2 separate regions of the Homo sapiens genome follow, and region 2 is linked to region 1. Evidence: fine-mapped expression QTL. A gene starts in region 1. The other region holds a variant in brackets. All regions are shown on one strand. Distances are between the middles of the regions.

Region 1 (8,731 bases):
GGAAGAGCTTCTTTTACTGAAATCACTATTCATGATGAGGGTGGGTCAGGGCATGGAGGGGTGGGAGAGTCAAAGGGAGAGGGAAGAGTTAATGCTTCCCTACAGATTGAATTCTCTTTGCATTTTATCAATTCCTTCTCTCAACTCATGCTTTCACATGTTGCTTATACTGAAAGCATTCATAAGGGTCAGATTCTAAAAAGTTTAACTTAATTTCTTAAACATTGCTTTTAACCTGCCACCCCCGGTTTCCAGCAACAACTACAGTAGTTCCTAAATCACTATCATTTTTGGCTAGAATGAATAATACATCAACTATTTATTTTCTCCAATTAATAGAGTGTCTTCTGATCGTCTAAAGAATTTTTTCACCCACAGAATTCTTTTTTAGAAAAAAGAAAGGTTCAAATTTCTTGTATAGAAAAACCTTCATTAAAAATGAATTTCCAACATCAGAAGTCAGAGCAAGGCAAATGTTTGAGTATGACATTTGCTGAAATTCTGTTGATTGTAAGCCTTTCTCAAATACTAATGAAGCGTTCCTTGAAGAAAAAAAAAAACGGAAATAACAGATGTTGATTGAGAAACAATATGTTTTTTACATGTCTCAATTGAAAAACACCTTGCCAAGAATACTAAAATTTGTGTTTTTAGTACTGGTTTCCTCTTTGGTGTTATTTCTTAGAAGAACAGATTAACTAACTCATTTAAAAATTCCCAACTTAGTAATTTCCTTTAAAGAGGTCATCTGCTTCTGAGGGTGGCACACTTTTGGGGATTTCCTGTATCTGATCACAATGAAATGGGTATGGAAGGTGATTTGCAGAAAGAGGTGAGGTTATTTAATCAAGTGCATCCTAACTTCAGGTACATTTTGTCCACTAAATCTTTGAAATACATCTAAAACACAATTTCTCCTTATATTCTTTTCTGGACAAATACAGCTAGTATTTCTACCTAACCATTCACAGAGAGATTCAGGGTATGTATAACCAAGGAAAGTACTTAGACGGCTATCTCACAAATTAGGAAACAGCGCTGCTCTTAAATTACAGTGTTTATTATTATCCAAATTTGTTTCAATAATAGCAAAATATAGAGAGGGAACATTTTAAAATTAGACACATTGGTTTCATCCAATACCTGAAAAGATAAAAAATACATAGCCAATGTGTAAATACTTTAATACGTATCTTCTATGACTACAGAGGTCTTTACTGAAAAACAAGTTAACTAACCTGTTGTGAAATGGGAAGTGTTGATCCTCTAGAAAATCAAGCACACCATCCAGAAAGTTGCCACTGTCAAAAATTTTAGCACTCTTTCCCAGTACAGAGGGAGGTGAGGTTAAAAACTACTGATCTATTTGACAGAAAAGTATACAACAGCATGATCATCCTATTAAGCACCTGCTGAAATGTAACTCCACGGCAGGAGTTAATCATATTTGAAAGCTCGAATTGTTAGAACATATTAGACACTCAATTACAAATACAGTTACATATAGTACACTATGTAAATTGTGGGTTAGAAAATAATTGAAAATAGGCTACTTAGAGGAAGAAATAAATAAGAATATTTCACTTATACCTTAAATAAAATTCAATGTTAAAAGGCCAATATAAGGCCGGGCACAGTGGCTCATGCCTGTAATCCCAGCACTTTGGGAGGCTGAGGTGGGTGGATCATTTGAGTTCAGGAGTTTGAGACCAACCTGGCCAGCCTGACCAACATGGTGAAACCCTGTCTCTACTAAAAATACAATTAGCTGGCTGTGGTGGCAGTTGCCTGTAATCCCAGCTACTCGGGAGGCTGAGGCAGGAGAATTACTTGAAACCAGGAGGTGGAGGTTGCGGTGAGTCGAGATCGTGCCACTGCACTCCAGCCTGGGCAACAAGAGCAAAACTCCGTCTCCACAAAAAATAAAATAAAAAAATAAAAAAAGGCCAATATAATATTTGTGACTTTTAAAAAGTAGTAAGTGATACAGTAAAATAAAATCAATGGTTATGGTGTATGGTGTCAAATACAGTAAGTTTTCTAATTTCAGAATTTAGGCCACAGATTCTCAGAGTAAGGAGTGATCTGGCCGGGCTCGGGGGCTCACGCCTGTAATCCTACCACTATGGGAGGCGGAGGCCGGCAGATTGCCTGAGTTCAGGAGTTTGAGAACAGCCTGGGCAACACGGTGAAACTCCGTCTCTACTAAAATACAAAAAATTAGCTGGGCGTGGCGGCGTGTGCCTGTAGTCCCAGCTACTCGGGAGGCTGAGACGGGAGAATTACTTGAACCCGGGAGGCCGAGGTTGCAGTAAGCCGAGATCGCGCCACTGCACTCCAGCCTGGGGGACGGAGCGAGACTCCGTCTCAAAAAAAAAAAAAAAAAAAAAAAAAAAGAGTGATCTTTGGAGGAGTGGATTAAAATCTGCATTGTACACATGCAGCCAGATTCCGATAGATTCTGACACCGCCCATCCAGGTCCACCCATACCTTGCTTCTACTTTAGTTGAGAAATAAGTTGAAGTTTGATTATCCTCAGGTATTTGGGGATATTAAGAAAAAAAAAGTTAAACAATTTTATTCAACTCTGAGCAAAGTCGAATGAGAAGGCAGTAGAAATATAATATTCCAAATGCTTTTGTGAGTGTTTTTCAGGCATTTACTTTCTTCTTTCATTTTTTATTTAACATTTGAATTATCTGTGTGTGGCCAGACATTTCTAGTATTTTATAATTTAATCAGTCTAGGACAGTTAGTTTGCCTGAAGAATATACTATTTTTACATTTCTTAAATAAAAAATCTGCAGAAAAGCAAATATAAATGCAAACCTATGAAACTTTTAAACATCTGGAAAAACAGGAAGATCATAAATAATTTGGAGGATAAGAAAAATATCAAATATAAATAATCATATCATAGTTTATAAAAAATCGTGTGTATATGGAGGTGTCTGTGCTACCAACTTCCATGTGTCAACATTAATTTAAATTATTCATTTTATGAAATGAAATAACTTTGTCCTGATTTTGTGGTTCAAAATCCAGATTTTATGTTTTTCTTCCCCCATGGAGCCATTTTTGACCCTCTTTTATCTAAATTTACTTACAGCCTTTTGTTTTATTTGGAGCATATAAAAATGTTTTAGGATTAGACATTACACAGGTGAAATGGATACACTTATAAATTTTATTATCCTGTTTAGTTTTGACAAAAACTTGCTCTTCTATTCTAGAAAACAAGAGTAAAAATATAAATATATTTTAAGACATATAAAATATATACTAATGAAAATGGTAAAACTACTTAAAGCATTTAAACTAATTATATGTGAGATTTCAATAGGATAATTCATTAGTCCAATCCTTGAAATAATCCCAAAGCGACATGAATTCCTCTGCAGAATGAATGTCTATAGAGAGTAATCCATGGAAGACAGACAAGCCTCTTGTCATTTGTAGCCTTAATCCATTGCCTAGAGCGTGAAAGTGCCTAGTATAACAAGTGTGGGAATCAGTAAAATCAACATTATTTTTGGATTTTATTTTCTTAACAATACTGGCTGATCAATAGGCTTGAGGAAACTGACAAATACAATAAGATCTGTTTGATGAGTCAATCTAGTGAAGTAGAGAGAGAATTCCTACTCCCTTTTCCCCATTCTCCCCCTCTTTAAATCCTCCTCTTCCTCCTTCTCCACCTACATTCACACAAGCCACACATCCAACGGCAGAGAGGGAGAGACAGAGAGAGAGAGAGAGAGAGAGAGAGAGAAAGCAGAGCGAGCGAGCGCTGTGCTTTCTCTATTGGTCTGTGGACATTAAGTAATGAAAGCTGTAGTGACAATGCTTAGATCATTTTCTTAAGAATACTAAGCCACTTTCAGTAGGTGTTTATGTTTTTAATTGTGAGACTCACTCTCTCCCTTCAGCCAAGAAGTTTCCCTACTATTGAAGTTGAGTCTCTGGATTCCAAGTGCTGTTCTGGAGGTGGGGGGTGGGGAGTGGTGGTAGGAGGGGGTAGGGCAGAATCATTTGGGGAATAAAGGAGAGAAAGTTCTGTCCTGTTAACTTTTTTATACATCCCCTAAAGATTCTTGTAAAAATATCAGCTTTGAGGAAAACTGAATGAAAAATAAGAGAGAAAATTGAGAGGCCACAGCCAACTACTTGTTTCAGAAGGAACTAATGGTGTTCATATGACTGCCTGAATACATGCCTATACGTCCCACAGAAAATTTAGTAACCCTTCAGCAGCTCATGAAGACACAGAGATATTCTTTTCATGTTACTCCTTGACACTCAGCAGGGACTTTTGTGAACTTTGTCATCTTCCGCTGCCCTTTAAACCAAAACTAGGGAAGTGTCTTTAATTAATGAGATGTGATGCATTGAAAATGTTAGCCAGAGCATTCCAGAAGCTGGAAAACCATAGACGTTTTTAAATTCTGAGTATCCTTTTGAGAATCCCCCGTTGTAATTTATAATTCTCAAAGGACCTATATTTGTCTTGAACTGATTGTTGGAATGGGCTTTAGTAGGAATTTCTTCCCTGAAATTGCAGTGGGACAGAGGAAGGGGGTGGTTGAGCCCAGGGGGTTTGTTGGGAGGAGGGAATGATCTCTAACAAGGCTTTAAAACCTTCAGTGGTTAAAGTTGTATTGATGAGGATATATAGACACACACACACACACACACACACACACGCACACATACAATGCACAAGTTCAGCAGGATTGTATAATGAGCATGAATTGTAAATTTTGTAGGTAGCAGAATTCAGATTTTTAAAATCAAAATTGCACCCAAAAATGGCTATAAAACAACGCTTGCCTTGGGAAGTAAATTTATAGCTACATGCCTTTCACAGGCACGCCTGAGGGTTCTGCTCCCGGCTCTAATCTCTACGAGATGTTTTTTGCATGTGTTGTGTGACAGGAGGGAAGGGGAGTAGGTTGAGCTCGCCTGTTCTCCCATTGTCAGCCAGTCTAGTGAGTGTTGGGGAAACCTGTCTGTGGGATCTTGTGTCATCTCCCTCTACATGCGTACAGGAAAAGTCCGCGCTGCTCACGGTTTCTCTCTCTCTCTCTCTCTCTCTCTCTCTTTCTCTCTCTCTCTCTCTCTGTTTCCCTTTCATTCTGCTTCCCCGGAGCCGAATGAAGCAGGGAGCAGGATTAGAGACTGCCACCGGCTATCAGAGGAGCTTAGATAAAAGGAACTGCTTCTTAAGCACCACTGCAGCAGACCTTGTTAATTTTTTTTTTTTTTCTTTCCACACAACAGTTGTGCCTCATTATCCGGTGCCTGGCTCGGAATTTTTTTTTTTTTTTTTCTTTTTGGAGGGTTTGAAGTTTCTGTGCTTCAGTGACTGTTACAGAAGAAGAGGTGTTAGTGTTGCCATGAGGTCTTGATTGTCTGCATTTATGAATGAAACTGACCTAAATCACCTGTTACCTCCAGTTTCCAGATTGTTTGAACTTCTCTGGCCGCACAATACAGGAAGGAAGACTAAAGCAGCAAAGGGACCTACAGCGTCTGCAGCATGGGCTGGTTAACTAGGATTGTCTGTCTTTTCTGGGGAGTATTACTTACAGCAAGAGCAAACTATCAGAATGGGAAGAACAATGTGCCAAGGCTGAAATTATCCTACAAAGGTAAATCTTATTTTTCTTTTATTTGGTTAGCTTTGTAATAACCGCCCCCCCCCTTAATTCCTTGAACTCCCTCCCAACCCCAAATCATCAAACCTTTAGTTTAACCTGGTAAACCGACGTGATTATGTGTATCTTTCTGAGATGCTTTAAACGCTTTTTGTAAAAAGCATGTCTTCTGTTTGATATATGACAACTTAAATGCAAACAAAGAACATTTAATCACATTTGCTGAAAAGAGCTGTATGCCTGGTACACGCTGATCTGTATATCTTATTATCCTATCTTATGCCTGTTAATTTTTCCGACTTTAATTCTATTAAAATATTTTCTTAAAAATAGAAATGCAAAAATGGTCTCTTTGTAGATGTGCATGCCTTACCTATAATTACTATGATGAATTGCATTTTCTTAGTTTTAGACATGAAATGGTTAATCGTCATCATGAATATTCAGTTTGTTCAAATCTGACAATCAGATGCTTAACATAAGCAGTAGATCATGGTTTGCCAAGAGAACATAAACTGGATGGAACAGACTAGTTTTTCCACAGTGCCTTATGATTGTACAAAAGACTGTATTTGGCTAATTGTGTAAAGCTAAAGTCTTTGAAATATTATGTTATTTAATTCTATATGTACTTCAGTGAGAACTGCAGACACATTACTGTCTGCTTGCATAGGTAGTTGTGTAAACTTCTCTTTTGAAAAGTATAAATTAAAGAGAGAAAAAAGAGCTTTATCACTAGTGCTTTATTTGGTTACAATTTAATGTATGTGCTTATTTTTATTGAGGATTTTTTATGTTTGTTCCACATTTGCTTAGATAGGTCTTATAGATAGATGATGTGTAAAGTAATGCTAAAGTAGAGCCCAAAATGATATACATACATTTAGTGGCAGTAAATCTTTCTATAACTCAGGTATTATTAAAATGGAGTTGAAGATTAAACTGTTTTAACTCAAGTAGTTTTACTCCCTAAGGTGTTGATTTCTTATGATTCTCAGATTTCTAAAATTGGGGGTGGAGCAGTGAGAAGCTCTAATTAAGCTTATTTTTTAGCCTATAAGTTAAAATAAAAATTATTGAAGGTATTTGTAGAGATGTCTGTCTACTGTACCTTGCTCTTATGCCACAAAACATATTCTTTAATTCTCATATGATGGGGAACATCTTTTTCTGAATGCCCTAGTGTGAATGAGGATCTCAAATCAGAAGAGAGATGTAATTTTCACACTTTGAATTAGAAAATTAAACACCTAGTAATGTGTTTCTTTGGACTTAGTGCTCGTTAAATGAAATGCATTGAATTAGAATATCTATTTACTTTTTGGTGTAATGTTTTCCTGAGTATCAAGTTGGGAATAGAGACTTAAACATCAACAAACAGAAGTGCAATTGTACTTATGTAAGTTTTAAAAAATCATGTAGCGTTATTTAATTAATTTAGTAACTGTCTTTAAATTATTTCCATAGTATATGATATTATGGTGTCTGTGTTTTTATCAGTTTTGCTTTCTGTTTTCACTCCTTGACAAGGTGACATCAAATAAGTCTAAGTTGATGGTCCACTTTATCCAAGTTTATGTTCCCTATAAGTTTTACATGCAACTTTAGTTCTCAAAGATGTGACTGGCTATTTGTAATACTTTTAGTTTAACAAGTTTAAAATCATGATATATATTTTAAAAATCTGCTAGGCTTGAATATATCTAAGTGCTAAATTCATTTTAAAATAAAATAAAAATAGGGAATTAAACTTTTTTATTTTGCAAGAATTTTATTTCCATGATAATAGGTTACTCTCCATGATAGAGGAGGCACTTGTTCTTTCTGTACATTAAAAATATTACATTTAATTTGAATATCCTTTGTTGTACACATATGCCTTAAACCTATCTGATGAAGCAAGCAGTATATATTAGCAAGGTGTATATATTTGATATTGTCTTTATAAGCCTTGTTTTAGTGATGGCATCCATTAGAATTATTCTGCTTTCCTTTAAGTAAAAAACTGCTTTACAGCTACATAACAATCCCATTGATACACCTAGAGCTTAATAATTTGGTAAAATAAACTGTGAAATGAACAACAGGAAGAAGAATAAAAGGAATGGCCTGAGGAAATTTTTTTCTGTTATTTTATTAATCTGTCATTACCTTTTTGTCTCTACATGTACGTTTGTTTGGCCAAAGCAAGTATGTGGTAGCCAATTGCCAGTACTTTGTTTCTAAAGTACAATAGAGATTTTTTTAAAGCTACTTCTTGTTTCTCCTTAATTAGATGTCAAACACAGTTAAAACATCCACTGCATTGCCCTTAAAAATATTCCAGCATGATTCATGAAGAGTTAAATCCCTGCCAACCTTAATTTCCCATGGTCACTTGTTTTCAAAGATCCACCATTAACTCTCTCATTGCTCAGGTTGCCAAGATGAAGTTTCTGGCAATCACTGTGCTTACTTTCTACTTATCATTTTTGCCTGGTAGGAGATGAAAGAGACTTGACATGTTAAAAAGAAGTAAAAACAGGAAAGTGGCCTTTGTAGCGGGTGTACATATCTAATAAGATACCTCTTTACTTTCTAGGAAAAAGGAATTGAATAGATGTGTTCAGGACCATCTGGAGAAGTGATAATATTAGAAAAATGGGGTATGCTGGCTTTTCCTCTGAACCAATTTGATTTAGAATCCTTATGGGGGAAGAAAATGTGAGAACTCTGTAAATCTCAGCAGTTACATAGAAATTATCCTTAAGAAACATTTACTCAGAAATACTTTTGTCTTCTTTAAATATATGTAATATAGCTAAATGGTAAAATCCTTCTTTTAAAAAGTGGTCCATGCATAAATGTTTATTTCTTCTACAAAACTAGTCAAATTTCACTTTTCTCATGAAATACAGGAAAATCATATAATCTTCCATTTGGGATATGTGATACAATGAAGTCTTCAGAAAAACCTGCATGAATCACAAGAAAATAATTAGGGTTTGGGTTTTAAACAAATGACAAATATTCCATCATCCAATGTAAGGGGCTATTCCAGGACACTATGTGCTTCAGTTTTGGTAGAAATCAA
Region 2 (8,731 bases), 240 kb after region 1:
TATTTAAGGGCGGAAGGTGCGTGCCCGTTCAATAAGCATGTTTTTTGCCAGGTAGGAAATATGTTCCATATCTTTACTTATCATTGCATTTCAGATGGGAACTAGAAAAACTGGAGAGAAAAATGTAATGAAACTGCTGCTGTAAATTATTCCTTTTAGCATGTATTCACTTGCTAAATACACATTTCTTCAAAATATTTGAATTCAGATGTCTTTACTGTTCCCTATAACATATGGTGTTAAGGAACATAAGCTCATAAAATGTTGAGAACCAGAGTCAGGTTGCTACATAATTAGCTAACAGATTTCTTCATTGTAGTCATCTGTAAACTGGGTTCTATATTTATGGTGATGATGTGAATTTTTATGCCCTTTAAATTAAGTATTGTTCTTTTTAATGTCATACCTAAAAAGGAAATGTAGGGATAAATTTTTATAATGTGTCATTTTCATAATCAGTTTGGTTTTATTCAGGATCCACAAAGATGTCAGATGACTGTTATTGAAATTGCTTATCTTAAAGGTCACAGACAAGCATTTTATTAATATGGAGCCACTAGTATAATATGTTAAAATCTTTGTTTTATTAGCTCATTTTAAAACACAATTTCCATTCAATTTAATGAAACTGTATCAGGTTTCATGGTTTCAAAGACAGACTTAAATAGGATTCAACACCCCCGTATCGTGTAATAACATGTTAAACTGGTCTAACACCAAGGACATCTATACTTTTAACTTGATTTGTAATAATTATTTGAAGTCAATGTTAATGTTTGCAAATACATGTTTCCATAAAGAAGAAAACATTATTTTTCAAAAATCTGTAAAATCTCATTAGTTTGTTTGATCTCTAAAAATTTTCTTAAACTAGTTAATTAAATGAACATAATTTTTCAAGTTAATAAATTAAGAAAATATCTAAATGAAAGAGAGAATAAAATCAGCATATGTGACAGCCCATATAGTAAGGACAGTTTCGCAATCAACGTAACCAAGGAAAACAGCTTTGTTATCATTTCAAACATGCAGGCACACACAGGCAGAGGCAAAGCTGGAACCAAACCAAACAAAAAGAAGATTTTGAATATTAAAAAACTGGGCCTCTAGACACTTTGCCTTTTAGAACCAGCTTCCTACACGTTCAAGTAAATTCCACTGATAGATCTTGACTATCTACAATGTGCTAGGTATTATGTTAGGTGATGAGGACACTAAAGTGAATAAGACATAACCCTTGTTCTCAAAGAGCTCACAATGAAATTAAGGAAACAGAGCGAGATGACTTATCATCATCTAATCCAGCAAGTCTTTCCTAATCCTCCCATCCCTAGTTCAAGCTAGGGACCTTCTCTATGCTAAACCTGTGCCTTGTATATACCTTTTATTGTCACACTACCCCAATGTGTGATTTATTTGTTTATGTTTCCATCTCCATTTCTAGACTGTGAGCTCCTTGAGGGCAGGATTTGTATCTAATTGATCTCTGTCCCCAGTGTCTAGCATGATGCCTGGCACAAAGAGGGAGCCCAATAAATCACTGTTGAAAAGAACCAAGTTACGATATGACAATTGCCAAATACAAGCTCACAATAAGAGCGGTATGGATCAAAGAAAAAAAAAAGGAGGAATTAACTTGTGGAGAGAGATCATGGGGTGCTTCAGAGAATAAGTGACTTTCCAGCTGTGAATCAGTCAGATATGCCTAGATGAAGAAACAAAATGGCAATCTGAGTAGAAGAAATAAGGAGAAAGGAGGAGAGGTGTGAAAAAAAGTCCTTTTTCTGAGAACAAGCATTCAAACAGATAAAACACAGGTTTCATAAAGAAAAGTTAAATGTCCCACTACTATGAGTCAAAATGGTGCATTTGCTTTTTCCTGGGTTTTGATTTATTGCCCTCTGTTTGTACCCCACATTCGCATCCTTGGCACAGACTGTCATATGTCACACATTCAGCCTCCTACACTTCCACCCCACAATCTCTTTACCTTCCTTCTTAATGTTCACCTCATTTATCTTTACTCAGCTAAAGTCATAGCACTAGACAGTGTTCCCACAACCGTCTTCAAACTCATCTGTATTTCATAATCTCTCCTCTAGTTCAAACCAGCACAGGTCAGCTGAAACTCTGAATTCTACAAATAAATATTTAGAGGAAGCTAACTTCATCAGACACTCCCCTATGCTCTCAGTTCAAACGAAAGTTTCTGTTACATTTCACCTACCTACAGCCTTACCTCACTCAGCTAGCATTAGACTACTCAGCAATGAGTTCCAACATTGCCTTGCTAAAAAGCAAGGTGGCTCACAAACAAGACTTCAGCAAAGATAGCATTAAAATGTGAAGTCTGCATTTGTTCAAGGCATACCTTAGATGGAGTAATTCATGGCCAAGCAATGCTGCAGGTGTGGTCAGCACATGTAGTTGATAGGCAGACTCCTATTATTTTAAACAAACAAACCAAAAAAGTTTTTTAAAAAATGAGACCCACCTTCATCTTGAATATGTCAACCCCGCACCACCGTTGTATTAATCTGTCATGTTTTTCTCATATAACAAAAGAATGGATTTTCTTTCTTTTAATCTAAACACTATACTTGTATATACAATGTTTATTTATATAGGACCTAAGCAAAAGTTTTTATAGATGTGTTCATGTCATCACAATTCAGGTAATGTGAAGGCTCAACTTCCGTCTTCTCTCTTTGTAAATCTCACTGAAGCATTAGATCTCAAGTAAATACATTTGTAAAATATCCATGTCATTTGTGTAGCTCAGTTCTTAATGTTTTGTTTGTTTTGTTGATAACTAATTCCAGAGAAGCTTAAACATTTTTAGACAAAGTTTTCATCTAAAATCAAACAGCCACATCAGGAATTTTTTAAATACACCACAATTTTTAGGGATTTTCATCCTTCAAAAAAGATTGACAGTTTTATTAGCCCTCAAATATTTGTATTTTACTCATGCAGTATTTTAAATTGCTGATAAATGTGAAAAACTCAGTTTAAGTCTGGGTCTGTGTATGCCATTCAATATATTCCATTTAAATTTAGATACTGATGAATAATGGTCTAGCTAAGTATCCAATTTGCATTGTTGCCATCTACTAATTTCAGAATCATTGCTCATTTTCTTCCTTGCAGAACTTTTGACCCTAATAGCATGCCTGTTGAAATTATTTTTATTGTATTTGCCTTCAGAAGTGGTTTGAATTATTACCCAATGAATATTAGCATCACAAAAATAATCTGTTATCCATATGGAAAAGAATACTGTCAAGGAGTTTATTGAATTCTTTAAATATTTACTCAAAACATAAGAGAATACTTATCCCAGGATTATTCTATTTTGATCAAAACAATTATGTAGTCATTAGTCATTAACTTTAGAAACATTACATTGTTTGGGTTTCTTCTTTAACTTCCTGACCCCTCTAGAATCCAAAACAAAAACAAACAAACAAAAAATCAACAAGTACTCTAGATGGCAAAATCACTTATCATTCAAAAGGTAGCATGTCCTCTTCCCCTCAGTGAAGATTGGAATGTAATTTGCAACTGTGACCATACTGGTCTTCTTCTTCTAATCTCCTCTTGGTCCTGAGACAATGTTTCTAAAAATTATGTCATATCAGGAAGCTCTATATTCATTATTGAGAAGTAATATTCTTGAACTTCTAGAAGGAAATATTTATATAATTTATAAAATGTATATCAATAAGCCCAAAGCAGAAACTCTTTGTAATACACTGCACTGTATTAATTTTAATTCAATAATATAATATTAAATAAAAACATAAGCAGACGTATGGAAGCATTAATACATCCTAAACTGCTAAAGTTACTGCCTGGTGCTAGTAACGTTACATTTTTTATATTCATTGTGTTTTTAGATATTATATTCACTACGTATTTTTATATTAATTGTGTTTTTAGATATTATAGTCTAAATATTTTTATGATATCACGTGGGCCTTTTCATATGAAGTAGGACACACAGCCTGAGGATCTGGCACAACATACTGTACTTGAGTTTTCTATGGTGAGTGAGAATTAGCCTTTGACTTTGAGAAACTCACAATCTATTGAAGAACAGGAAACACAACATTTAACATGATGTGTCATACAATGGATATAGTAATAGTCGTAGTAGTCATATTAGTAATGATAGTAATATCAAGTGTTTACAACATACTGTTTTCTTTATCAAGTGCTTTATTTGTATTACTTTAATTATTAAAACAACTCAAAAAATCCTATTTTATCCTTATTATATCAATAAAGAAACTGAAGTACAGAGTGGTTGAATAACTAACTGCTCAATTCACATGATCAAAAGCGATAGACATAAAGTTCTAATTCAAGTATGATTTACGATTACCTGTGTTTCCAGAAAGATAACTAGTTAATGTAAATATAATTTAAGATGCCATGCTGTATGGAAATAGAGAAAAAGGATGTCAAAGACTCTTAGAAAATGAAGAAGAGAATGGTGAATGAGTTGACCTAGAAATAAGGGAACATCTCTTTCACTAAGAGAGGAGAGACAATCAAATAGGAAATCAGCAGCACAGTTAAAAACAGGTTTTGGAGACCTGCAAACCTGGGTTGAATACCTGCTATACCCATGTACTTAGTGGTGTCTTTGAGTATTGATTTATTTCTACTTCTCTGGGCCTCAGTTCTCCCCTGTATAAGATTTTAATATATCAGTTCTTCCATCTATATGAGATAAATGATAGAAAACGTATTCACAGAATTGGGGTAATAGTTAACATTGACATATAATGTTTACTGCTAACACTAATTATTTACTCACTTTTCTTGATTTCCGTCCTGATAATGATGAGAACATGATGTTCTTTCTCATTTCCAAATAAAATGTTTTT[T/G]ATTATATCTATTACCACCTTCTGTAGATCTTTAGCCCTCTACTTTCTGTCATTAATTTCTCTTGCTTCCCATTTTAAAGTAGTAGTTGTACAAAATAGCAATAATCTCCCTTGGCCATGTCTTTCATGTGAGCACTTTTCTACATCTTACCTTTGCCCATAAAAATTTGCAAAAGAAATTCTAAATGACTCCTAATCAAAGATAACAGATGTTTGACTTTTTATTCTCTAAAAAAACACTACATTAAGATATCAGCACTTTTAATTTCCAACCATGTTAACTTTTCATTGCAAATTTTGGGGCTACTGTCTGCCATCATGATCTCTAAGAATGCATTTTAGAGTAAATTAGTCAATTTTTTTTTTTTTTTTTTGAGATGGAGTCTCACTCTGTCGCCCAGGCTGGAGTGCAGTGGCAAGATCTTGGCTTACTGTAAGCTCCGCCTCCCGGGTTCGCGCCATTCTCCTGCCTCAGACTCCCGAGTAGCTGGGACTACAGGTGCCCGCCACCACGCCGGGCTAATTTTTTGTATTTTTAGTAGAGACGGGGGTTCACCGTGTTAGCCATGATGGTCTCGATCTCCTGACCTCGTGATCTGCCCGCCTCGGCCTCCCAAAGTGCTGGGATTACAGGCGTGAGCCACCGCGCCCGGCCAATTATTTTTTACTAAGTAATCACCTGTTTAATTCTTTTAATATACAGTTTTCAAAGTTAGCATTTTCCAGCTCGAAAAGGAGACAGTTTTCTATGCATTACCTAATAAAATGTCTTCCAGAAGACAAAATGATTATTTTTATATAGACTCAATGAAATAAACTATATGATATTAAGCGTGTTTTCATATATGAAAAGGTTTGAGACACAGTCTAAGCAATTGCAAGTGCTGATGAACTTTCAAAAATAAAATCAAACTTAAAAAATATATATTGCTGAAAAAATTCTATGTATTGTAATAATATATAATTCACAGGAAGACAATGTGAGCAGAGGCATTTATTCATGGTCTCTAAAGAACACATGAAAAGACCACTACCATAATTCACACCTAAAAAGATGATAATTTATGCAAAATCATTCCCTTTAAAAAGTAGAGATGAAAAGAGACGTGACACCTCAAAACCCTGCCAAGCTAGGGATAAACATAAGAAATAAACCATATGTGTTGTGGGAGGCAAATCCACAAAGAAACTGTTAGGCAAAAATAAAACCAAACTATGACATGATCCAGATGTTCACTAATATAAAGGCCTCAGCAAAATCTGATGGACTTCAAGGTCTGGTAGGAAAGGATAAAAGTTCCAAAAGTTCCAAATGTGTGAACACTGATTGGCTTCAATTATTTGGTAATCTTTTTTAAATAATTGCTTTTGTTTGAAGTATTGTCGTCTTTAAGCTTTAACTATTTTGGAAATTGATAAAAAGCAGCACAAAAAGATGAAACAAAAGTGCAGGCTTTGAAGTACAATCATTTTGTTCATAGTAACTTCAAGAGACCATTTGGGCTGGCCCCCAGAAAAGACAATTGTATACATTAGAGTTTAGACAATCTGGAAGGGAGAAAAAGGGTAAGGCCTGTACACAAATATTTTATACTGTCCATAACTTGAAAGAGAATTAATTAAAAAACCCAATAGGCTATACTAAGTGTGTATAAATATAGTCATGGTAGATAGCACTGAGTATAATTTTCAGATAAAATTTGAACTAAGATTTCTTTTATGCATTGAGTACAGATGCACCATTTATACATATCTAGTTCTAGGCATATCTAAATTTCTGAGTGCTTCTTAGCAGTCGTCTTATGTTTAAATGTCTTTCATTGAATACAACACAGTTCAGTTTATATACTCAACTTTCATTTATTAGTCACATGATGCTAAAATATTTAATACAATATTAGGAGATTGAATTGGAAAGTGCTCAAAAACTTTAGAAAATGAAGACATAATGAGCCAGAAAAATCTCAATGCTGGGAGGGTTGAAAGAGAGAATAGGGGCTCAAAAAAGCAAGGAAAGAAAATGCATTGATTTTAAAAGGAAGTAACAGCATAAAAAGAACAAAGATATCATCTCTTTTATTAACAGTGCAAATGCTTGGGTTACTGTCTTGTTCCTTTTTTATCCTTATGCAGATCCTAATCTTATGTGCTATTGATCTCTCTTTAGATTGTCTAACATGGGTAACCATCCACTAAGTCCAGCATACTCAAAACATGTGACCAAAGTGTGGAATATGGACATTTCTGTCACCTGGGAGTTCATGAGAAATACGGATACATAAGACCCACACGAGACCTACAGAATCAAAATCAACATTTTAGTCAATTCGCAGGTGATTTGTGTGCACAACAATGCTTGAGCCCAGTGCTTTTAACTCCCAGGCCACAGTGTGGTACCAGTCCATGGCCTGTTAGGAATGGGCCACACAGTAGGAGGTGAGTGATGGAGGAGCCAGCATTACCACCTGAGCTCCATCTCCTGTCAGATTAGCAGTGGCACTGGATTCTCATAGGAGCATGGACCCTGCTGAGAACTGTGGATGCCAGGGATCCAGGTTGGGTGCTCACTGTTGGAACCTAACTAATGCCTGATGATCTGAGGTGGAAGAGTTTCATCCCGAAATCATTCCCAACACCCCCGTCTGTGGAAAAACTGTCTTCCACAAAACCAGTCCCTGATGCCAAAAGGTTGGAAACCACTGCTTAATTGAGTGATTCATACAAATTTGTATCTCACTCTTTCAGGGGCACAAATTTGGAGTGTTCTTACCCAATGATTTGTCAGGATTTCACTGGCCCAGTGGCTCCACTCAGGCTTTCTCCTGTCTGAGTTCTAAGAAGGCTTACCTGCTTCCAAGGTTTGCTGGCCTTAGGGGTGAGGATCAGATACTAAGATGTAAGGGCCCTAAAACATCAGGTTAAAATTACTTAGTGTGCTGATGAAAATATTAAATATTTCAGAGTTGCCGTGATGAAAGTCATTAGAAAGTATTTGTGTTCTAAGTAATATTTACTCAGCAATGATATAGGGTAAATTGGGGGTAGGAGAATTTCTACTCCTACTATTTCTACTATTCTGCTTTTCTTCTTCTTCTCCTTGTTCTTCTTCTTATTATTATTACTATTATTATTATTATTGAGACAGGGTCTGTCACCCAGGCTGGAGTGCAGTGGCGCCATCATGGCTGACTGCAGCCTCAACCTCCCCGGGCTCTGGTGATCCTCCCATCTCAGCCTCACGAATAGCTGGAACTACAGACAATGCCACCACATGCCCAGCTCATTTTTGTAGTTTTTGTAGAAATGGGGTTTCACCATGTTGGCCAGGCTGGTCTCTAACTCCTTCACTCAAGTGATCCGCCGGCCTCGGCCTCCCAAAGTGTTGTGATTATAGGCATGAGCCACTGCACCTGGCCCCTATTTAGCTTTTCAAAAGTAATGCATCCCTTATAAAAAAAATTGGTAAGAAAAGAATATGCAACACCTCAACTACAGAAATATTTTTATCCAGCTGACAACATCCTTCAGAGAGTCAGTGCATTGCAATGTAATGGTATTACTTTATAGATAATGTTATCTTCTCATTTCTTTTAGGCTTTCAGTGTAATGAAAGTACACATTTTTCTGAATTATTACAGTATTGGGCTTCATGAAGTTTGGCGGCAGTGAGAGTTGTTTGATTTCTCAAAAACTTTTTCCAGTAATTTTCATAGTATTTGTATTCTATGAAGGAAATATAGTAACTTAAATACTTCCTATAAATAGAAATACTCAAGTTACCCACTGAAAGACCTTTTAAACTAAAATATGCAACTTTAGCAAAAACAGTAATCAGA

Alleles and levels. Alleles are on the strand shown, and positions count from the first base shown. SD is a standard deviation of normalised expression in the study named.
In carriers of allele G in region 2, the expression in sigmoid colon of the gene that starts at base 5,338 in region 1 tends to be lower than with T alone (moderate effect, 0.41 SD a copy in GTEx).

Evidence for each region. PIP is the estimated chance that this variant, and not a neighbour inherited with it, causes the effect.
Region 2: its variant is the best candidate, but not a certain one, in a credible set for the expression of SEMA3A in sigmoid colon (GTEx, PIP 0.76).

What each region holds. Positions count from the first base shown.
Region 1 is chr7:84,191,396-84,200,126 of GRCh38, reverse strand. It overlaps SEMA3A (semaphorin 3A), which reads left to right and starts at 5,338. Exons shown (of 17, transcript NM_006080.3): 1 at 5,338-5,652. The coding sequence starts at 5,541. RefSeq lists an enhancer at 4,417-5,224.
Region 2 is chr7:83,949,809-83,958,539 of GRCh38, reverse strand. SEMA3A (semaphorin 3A) reads left to right here. Exons shown (of 17, transcript NM_006080.3): 17 at 1-2,763. Among named protein-coding and RNA genes, the nearest start is that of SEMA3A, 240 kb to the left of the region's middle. The variant T/G (reference allele first, on the strand shown) is at 4,896.